Homo sapiens: one gene and its partner. The protein of the gene in region 1 purifies or fractionates together with the protein of each later gene. This does not show direct contact. Each region holds a gene or a part of one and is shown in the gene's direction. Other genes may lie near its edges.

Region 1 (3,819 bases):
TTTTTTCTTTTTTTTAGCTTGTTAACTGAAATCAGTTCTACTTTTAATCTACGTGCATTTAATTTTTTTCAGGCATTCAATCTTACTGGTTACTCATGTTTTTCAGCCAGTTCAGTGTGTCACTAAGAATAGACATGTAAAATAAGGCTGGGCACAGTGGCTTACGCCTGTAATCCCAGCACTTTGGGAAGCAGAGGTGGGTGGATCACCTGAAGTCAGGAGTTCGAGACCAGCCTGGCAAACATGGTGAAACCTCATCTCTGCTAAAAGTAGAAAAATTAGCCGGGCATGGTGGTGCATGCCTGTAGTCTCAGGTACTCAGGAAGCTGAGGCATGAAAATCACTTCAACCTGGGAGGCAGAGGATGCAGTAAGCTGAGATCTCACCACTGCAAACCAACCTGGGCAACAGAGTGAGACTCTGTGTCAAAAAACAAACAACAACGACGAAAGAGTAGACACATAAAATATATATCTGGACTTGCTAAACAGATGTAAGAACTTTAAAGTTCTACATAGGCCATGCACGATGGCTCATATCTATCAACACTTTGAGAGGCTGAGGCAGGAGAATGTCTTGAGGCCAGGAGTTCAAGATCAGCCTGGATAACAGAGCAAGATCCTGTCTCTACCAAAAAAAAAAAAAAGTTCTACGTAATTGTTGCTTTTATTCCCCTTTTTCACAATTATTTAAAACACATTTATTTTTAAATAAAGAATTAAATTCTCTAGTTAAAGGATTAATTCAATTAAAGAATTTGTAAATAATGCCATATTTCTGTAATGCTTTCCATTATCAATGCATCATTGTCCACTGGCATGAGATTTCCTGAAGATTTTTCCTTTATTAAGAATTCCACTTTCAGGCCGGGTGTGGTGGCTCATGTCTGTAATCTTAGCACTTTGGGAGGCCAAGGCGGGAGGATTGCATGAGCCCAGGAGTTCAAGGCCAGCCTGGGCAACTAGTGAGACTCTGTCTCTAAAGACAAAAATTTTAAAAAAGAAAAGATTTTCACTTTCGTAATACAGATTTCTAATGCTTTCGTTGCCTGAGTTGATGTCTTCTTCTTTCAAATAGGAGAAAAATATTCTGACAGCCCAGTTACAGGAAATGAAGAACCAGAGTATGAATCTTTTCCAAAGGAGAGATGAAATGGATGAATTAGAGGGGTTCCAGCAGCAGGAACTAAGTAAAATAAAGCACATGGTATGCATTTTTGTTTTAGTAGCTAAATACTGAATAGATGATTATTCACTCTGATTTTACTAGTCATCACTCTCTAATTGCTGATAAACATACACCAGTAATATGTGATATTAATCATATTTGATATTAATCATATTTGTATGTTTTTAAATTTATTAAAATAGAAAAGTTCTGTTTAAAATGTTCTTTTTCTGTTTTGTTTTGGGTTTTGTTTTGTTTTGTTTTGTTTTGTTTTTAACTACTGGGTATATAAATTCTCTTATAAGCCCACAAAAATGTTATAGAAATTTGGCTATTGGTCCACATTTTTTTTTTTAAATAGATGGAGTCTCACGGTGTTGCCCAGGCTGGAGTATAATGGCTACTCACAGGTGCGATCATAGCACACTGCAGCCTCAAATTCGTGGGCTCAAGCTGTCCTCCCACTTTAGCCTCCCAAGTAACTGGAACTGTAAGCATGTACTGTAGGTGTGTGCCACCATGCCTGACAAGCTTAGATTTTTTTTTTTCTTTCCTTTCTTTCTTTCTTTTTTTTTTTTTTTTTGAGATAGAGTCTCACTCTGTCACCCAAGCTGGAGTGCAGTGGCATGATCATGGCCCACTGCAGCCTCGACCTCCCAGACTCAAGGGATTCTTCCACCTAAGCCTCCCGAGTAGCTGGGACTACAGGCGCACTACCATGCCCGGCTAATTTTTGTATTTTTTGTAGAGGTGGTGTTTCGCCATGTTACCCAGGCTGCTCTCAAACTCCTGGGCTTAAACGATATGCATGCCTCAACCTCCCAAAATGGTGGGATTACAGGCGTGAGCCACCGTATCCAGCCGAGATTTAAGTGTATTTTTCTTTTTTACTTCTTTTTTTTTTTTGAGATGGAGCCTAGCTCTGTCACCCAGGCTGGAGTGCAGTGGCGCGATCTTGGCTAATTGCAACCTCCACCTCCCGGGTTCAAGTGATTCTCCCGCCTCAGCCTCCCGAGTAGCTGGGATTACAGGCACCCGCCACCACGCCCGGCTAATGTTTGTATTTTTAGTAGAGATAGGGTTTTGCCATGTCAGCAAGGCTGGTCTCAAACTCCTGACCTCAAGTGATCCACCTGCCTCAGCCTCCCAAAGTGTTGGGATTACAGGCGTGAGCCAGCATGCCTGATCTTAAGTGTATTTTTCTTAGCATAGCCCAATGAAACTTTGTATTTTTGTGTCAGCTTTTAAAAAAAGAAGAAAGTCTAGGGAAAATGGAACAAGAATTGGAGGCACGAACCAGAGAACTTAGTCGTACCCAGGAGGAGTTGATGAACTCCAATCAGATGTCATCAGACTTAAGCCAGAAGCTAGAAGAATTGCAGAGACACTACTCAACGCTGGAAGAGCAGAGGTTCTTGCTTGGTCTGTGGGGCCCTTGGGAAGAGGTGTTAGTGTAGTTCTGGCTATAGCCTGCCCACCTTTCCCCATTGTTCATTACACCACTTTCTGATTCCGGTGCTGGCAAAGGCTTCTGGACACATCCTTACCTGCCTAGGACTCAGGCCTCACCCTACCTCCAACCCATTTTCCCCTTCAGCTGCTGAAACTCAGGACAGTTCCACCCTGCTGAACAATTCAGTGTGGTTTTAGTTTGTAAAGTATTAATAGACTAAGGAAAGGCAGGTCAGGATTTCTTTCTTAAACTAGGGTGGACTTTTTCTCTTTGGGCTCCTGCTTCAGAGAGAGCCGAGGCTTTTTCCGTTGAAAACCTGCATGTGGCTAATGATGCTTGTAGCCCTGACACAGAAGAAACCATTTGTATTTTTCCTGCAGAAGACTGTATATTAGATGAGATATCCAAATTTGTTCATTGTCTGCTTTCTTTTGATGAAGAGATCATGTGATAGCTTCAAAAACAGGTGCAGAAAGTAAGATCACAGCCCTGGAACAAAAGGAACAAGAGCTCCAAGCACTCATTCAGCAGCTTTCCATTGATTTGCAAAAGGTAAGTAGAATATGAGGAGAAGACCTGGATTTCTAAGATTCATAAAAACTAATTCTTTCAGAAATTTCTGCCTGAGAGTAGCTACTGAACATACATTTCTCATGCAGTCCACATGGCTCCATTTCCTGTACTAGCCAGGCTGCACTCAGATGGAAATGGCCATACAGCTGAACAAGGGTTGCTTAGCAGAAGTAGTCAGTATTTTCCTGTCAGGAATTCTCAAAGTACACCATTTGGTCGACTCAAATATGTCTCTCTTTTTTTTTTTTTTTTCTTTTTTTTTGGGACAGAGTCTTGCTCTTGTCGCCCAGGTATTATAGGCGCCCGCCACCACACCCGGCTAATTTTTGTATTTTTAGTAGAGACAGGGTTTTACCATGTTGGCCAGGCTGGTCTCAAACTCCTGACCTCGTGATCCACCAACCTCGGCCTCCCAAAGTGCTGAGATTACAGGCGTGAGCCACCGTGCCTGGCCTGACTCAAATATGTCTTTAAGCACATAATGGACCTTGAGCATGAAAAATACAATAGTGGCTGACATGACCAGGGCTGTACCTTTGACATACTTGGCTCTAATCCAGTTTGTTTTATGGCACGTAATCAAATGATGTCATTACAATTTGTTTTTTCATTTCATTGACATACAT
Region 2 (3,819 bases), on another chromosome or scaffold:
GCACTGCAGTAGAAACTGGGTGTTGTAAGTTGTCGGTTCAGCTCTGTTTCCTACACCATGCTGTACCCAAGGTGGACATGGAAACTTTGGGCTTTTTGGGAAGTGTATGTGTAAGTATTAATGCCTAACCTGTGTTAAGGAAAATAATACATATTAAATTAAACAAAACGTCAGTCAGATGAGCTACAGTTTATTTTTCTGCTCTCTCCAGCCCTCTAGGTAGGCATTCAGTACATATTTAAGTGGATACAGTTTCCAAATGTTTTCTTAATTGTTTCTGCAGCTTTGCATAATTATCAAAGCAGGAAATGCAGATCAGTCTTCTGCAGTGTTTTAGCTGGTATGTGTATGTAAATATTCTCTTTTATGTTTAGACCATCACAGCTGCCTGGAGCTCAAGTGTTAAACTATGACTGTTAAGCCTCTTTCAAATGATAGGAGTCAAAATATGTAATCCTTCTAGGTATTGTTTAAGTGTTGGTAGCAAAAAACTCACTTTGTTTCCTCTGCTCTCACACTACAACAGTCAACACAGAAAACTGTGACCAAATATGTGTGGGGTTTTCCTCATACACTAAGCAGGGGACACCAGCTGGGTGTCCTCTAATTCACTTCAGTTCTTATGCTGTCTTCCTGGAGATGTATAAAGAAAGTGACTTTAAAGAAAGTGATGATATAAAGAAAGTGATGGTATAAAAAAAGTTATTTTTTATTCCAAAGCTGGCTTAGAGGAATAAGTACAGGCTTCCTGTCTTAAGGATACTGCTTTGCTCTTGGAGCAGAAAGTGGACACTTTTAAAAGGGGCCTAGCATGAATGGCACGCAGAGGAGGAAGCAAGCAGGTGGATACTTCCTTACTTTCTGCCTTCTCTACCAGGCAGTCCATTTGGTCTCTTCCTGGGCAGAACTAGGTTGTAAAGATGGCTGAAACTCTCCAGGTGGGAGAGTTTCTTAGTGGGCATACTTTGGGTTGTAAATTTACTGCTGTCCCTCGAGGCAGTCCCCTGGTGGGAGAAAGTTCTGCTCTGGAGCTTCTAAGCACATAGATGAACTTGCCCTGTAGGGAGTGTCTAGTAAAGGAAAGGTAAAAGGTTATATTGTATTTCTAAAGGTCTAAGTAGGAAGTGGGGAAGGAGTTGGGGAATAGTAGGGAAAAAATAATTGAAAAAATACATTTTTTTTAAAGAAATATGGGGGTAGCCTCAGATCCCATAGATTGAGGGCTCCATCCCACAAGACTGCCCCTCTCCCTCAGACACCAGTTGCAAGTCTGGGCCTCCAGAACTTCTGACTGACCAGCTTCAAGTTGAGGTTCCCATGACCCTCTCTTTGGGCTTCATTTGCTAGAGCAGCTCGCTGAACTCAGGGAAACACTTAACATTTACTGCTTTATTATAAAGGATACAGATGAAGAGATGCATAGAGCAAGGTATAGGGGAAGGGGCACAGAGCTTTCATGCCCTCTCTGGATGCACCACCACTGTCCAGCAGCCCGCAGGTGTTCAGCTGTCGGAAAGCTCCCTAAACCCTGTCCTTTTGGGTTTTTAATGGAGGCTTCATTACATAGGCATGGTTGATTACATCACTGGCCATTGCTGATCAGCTCAACCTTTAGCCCCTCCTATCCCTGGAGGATGGGGGGTTGTGCCAAAAGTCCCAATCTTCTAATCATGCCTTGGTCTTTATCGTGACCAGCCCCCATCCTGAAGTTGCCTAGGGTCTGCCAGCCATCAGTCTCATTAACATACAGAAAGACTTCACATTGGAGATCCCAAGGATTTTAGTAGTTGCATGCCAGGAAACAGGGATGAAGACCAAATACATATTTCATAGCATCAAAGCTGCATTAAACACTTGTGATTTCAAGTAAAAAAAATCTAATTTCATATGACAAGTTGGTGGTTTATCTGAAATTTCTTCTGAAATGGGCCTTTTTAAACCTGTTTTTGCTTTTAGTACAAATCAAATAATTTTGGAAAGGAGAACTTCTGTCCATCTACTCCATTAAAAATATGTTTTTAGTATTTAAAAAAAATTTCCCAAAGAAGAAGTATGTATGTGTGGGTATGAAATTGATCACTAGTATTTTCAGCTTTTCTTGTTAATTAGGCTTTCCAAGAGCAGAAAACTGTTTTCAAATATTGCAGCATTTCTGTTAAGATTATTTGAGTCACTTTAACATTCACTTTTATTCTTTCCCAGCTTCTGAAAGACCATGCCTCATCCATGCCTAACGCAGAGTCCTGGCCTGTCGTAGGTCAGTTTTCAAGCGTTGGCTCCTTGGGAGCCGATGAATCAAAGTGGTTATGTTCTGAGTTTAAAGAGAGCATGCTGACACTGGGGAAGGAAAGCAAGACTCCAGGAAAAAGCTCTGTTCCTCTTTACTTGGTGAGTTCTCGTCCTCATTGAGGTAGTTTACTTTTATTCTCTACACAGGAGAAGAATTGAAAATTGGTCCTCTTTGTAATGGAGAGATGTTTTATTCTGTGATTCTTTTTTTTTTTTTGGCGTGGCGGGGGCGGGGTGCGGAAAGAGCAGTACATTAGCATCGTCATTTGTAATCAAGTTGCCTTTGCCTTAATATCCAGTGCTAAGAGCTTGCCGATTCGTTCAGGAGCTCCATTGCAGACACAGACTGGCCTGTGATTTTTCTATCCTTTCTTTCAGGTTGTTGAACCAAGGTAGAAAATATTTGATGTAGCACAGCCAGCAGAATTATGGGCATTTTAATTATTTAGAGAACTGTGAATTAATAATTAATTTTCCATTCAATGTTAACTTGAATTTCAAAGGAAAAAATACTCCAATTGAAGTATAATTTTACATCAAATATGGTTCCTGTTGTTTAATTACTAGTTCATTTTTTTCATAAGATGAGAACTTTTAAAAATTTAAAGCATATTTTCTAATTTAAAAGTATTTTTAACAGATTTTCATTTCCTTAAAAGCTGATTATCATTCCTTTTCTTCAACATGGTACATTCCGAGTTTTATTGTTTTCCTCTTATTTTTAGATCTATCCTTCTGTGGAAAATGTGCGGACCAGTTTAGAAGGATATCCTGGTAATTCTTGGGGAGACTGTCTTGATTGTGTTTTATGTATATTTCATGAATGTCCTGGTAAAGTTTTACTACTATTGCGTAGAAATTTGGAGATGGTTTTCACTTAACTATATAAGGATCATGAAAATAGGCAATATGAAGCTCTGCATTCCGCAGATGATACCCTTCAGTTTGGGTGTGTTATTAATCCTTACAGAAACCCTCTGCACAATAGTTTTCATTTTTACCAGTAAGGTAACCAGCAGGTTGGTTGTCCAGACAAGATAGCCAAATAAAATCAGCTTCCCCTTACTCTTCAATGCGTTTTCAGAGCTTATCCAACATACCTTCCTCTCATCTCTGCATATCCTCCCTTCCTGTGTTTGAGGTACCATGTGGTCCTTTTAAATGCCTGCTATAGATAACATTTAAGGTCCGGAATTTTTAAAATTTTGCCTTTGGTATAACTTTGTTGATATGTCTATTCTGTCAAGGGTGTCATCTGCAAATGCCTAAGATTTTTTGTAGGCATCTGTCAACGCTGTCCCTTTCCCTTATACTCATACCAGGCACTAAACCTTTATTTAGAATTCAGCAGCCCCGCTAGTTAGTGTAATCAGGAGATGTTAACTGAAAACCCACATAGTGGTTGTCTCTGGAAAAAGCAAAGTCTAATTGGCATTTGTTGATGGCTGAAAGCAGAATGCACTGAATTAAACTAATTTAGTCCATTTATTGCTTATCAGGCTCAATAAGAAAAATCTGCCAGGAAAATTT

Evidence for each region.
Region 2: the proteins of GOLGA1 (region 1) and TDP1 fractionate together in Homo sapiens (co-fractionation; one large-scale study listed by BioGRID). This does not show direct contact.

Annotation. Positions count from the first base shown.
Region 1 is NC_000009.12:124,920,482-124,924,300, reverse strand, and holds part of GOLGA1 (golgin subfamily A member 1), read left to right. Parts: intron 1-1,077; coding exon 1,078-1,206; intron 1,207-2,408; coding exon 2,409-2,578; intron 2,579-3,060; coding exon 3,061-3,172; intron 3,173-3,819. UniProt on the Homo sapiens protein: Involved in vesicular trafficking at the Golgi apparatus level. Involved in endosome-to-Golgi trafficking. Mechanistically, captures transport vesicles arriving from endosomes via the protein TBC1D23.
Region 2 is NC_000014.9:89,986,703-89,990,521, forward strand, and holds part of TDP1 (tyrosyl-DNA phosphodiesterase 1), read left to right. Parts: intron 1-2,202; coding exon 2,203-2,388; intron 2,389-3,014; coding exon 3,015-3,063; intron 3,064-3,819. UniProt on the Homo sapiens protein: DNA repair enzyme that can remove a variety of covalent adducts from DNA through hydrolysis of a 3'-phosphodiester bond, giving rise to DNA with a free 3' phosphate.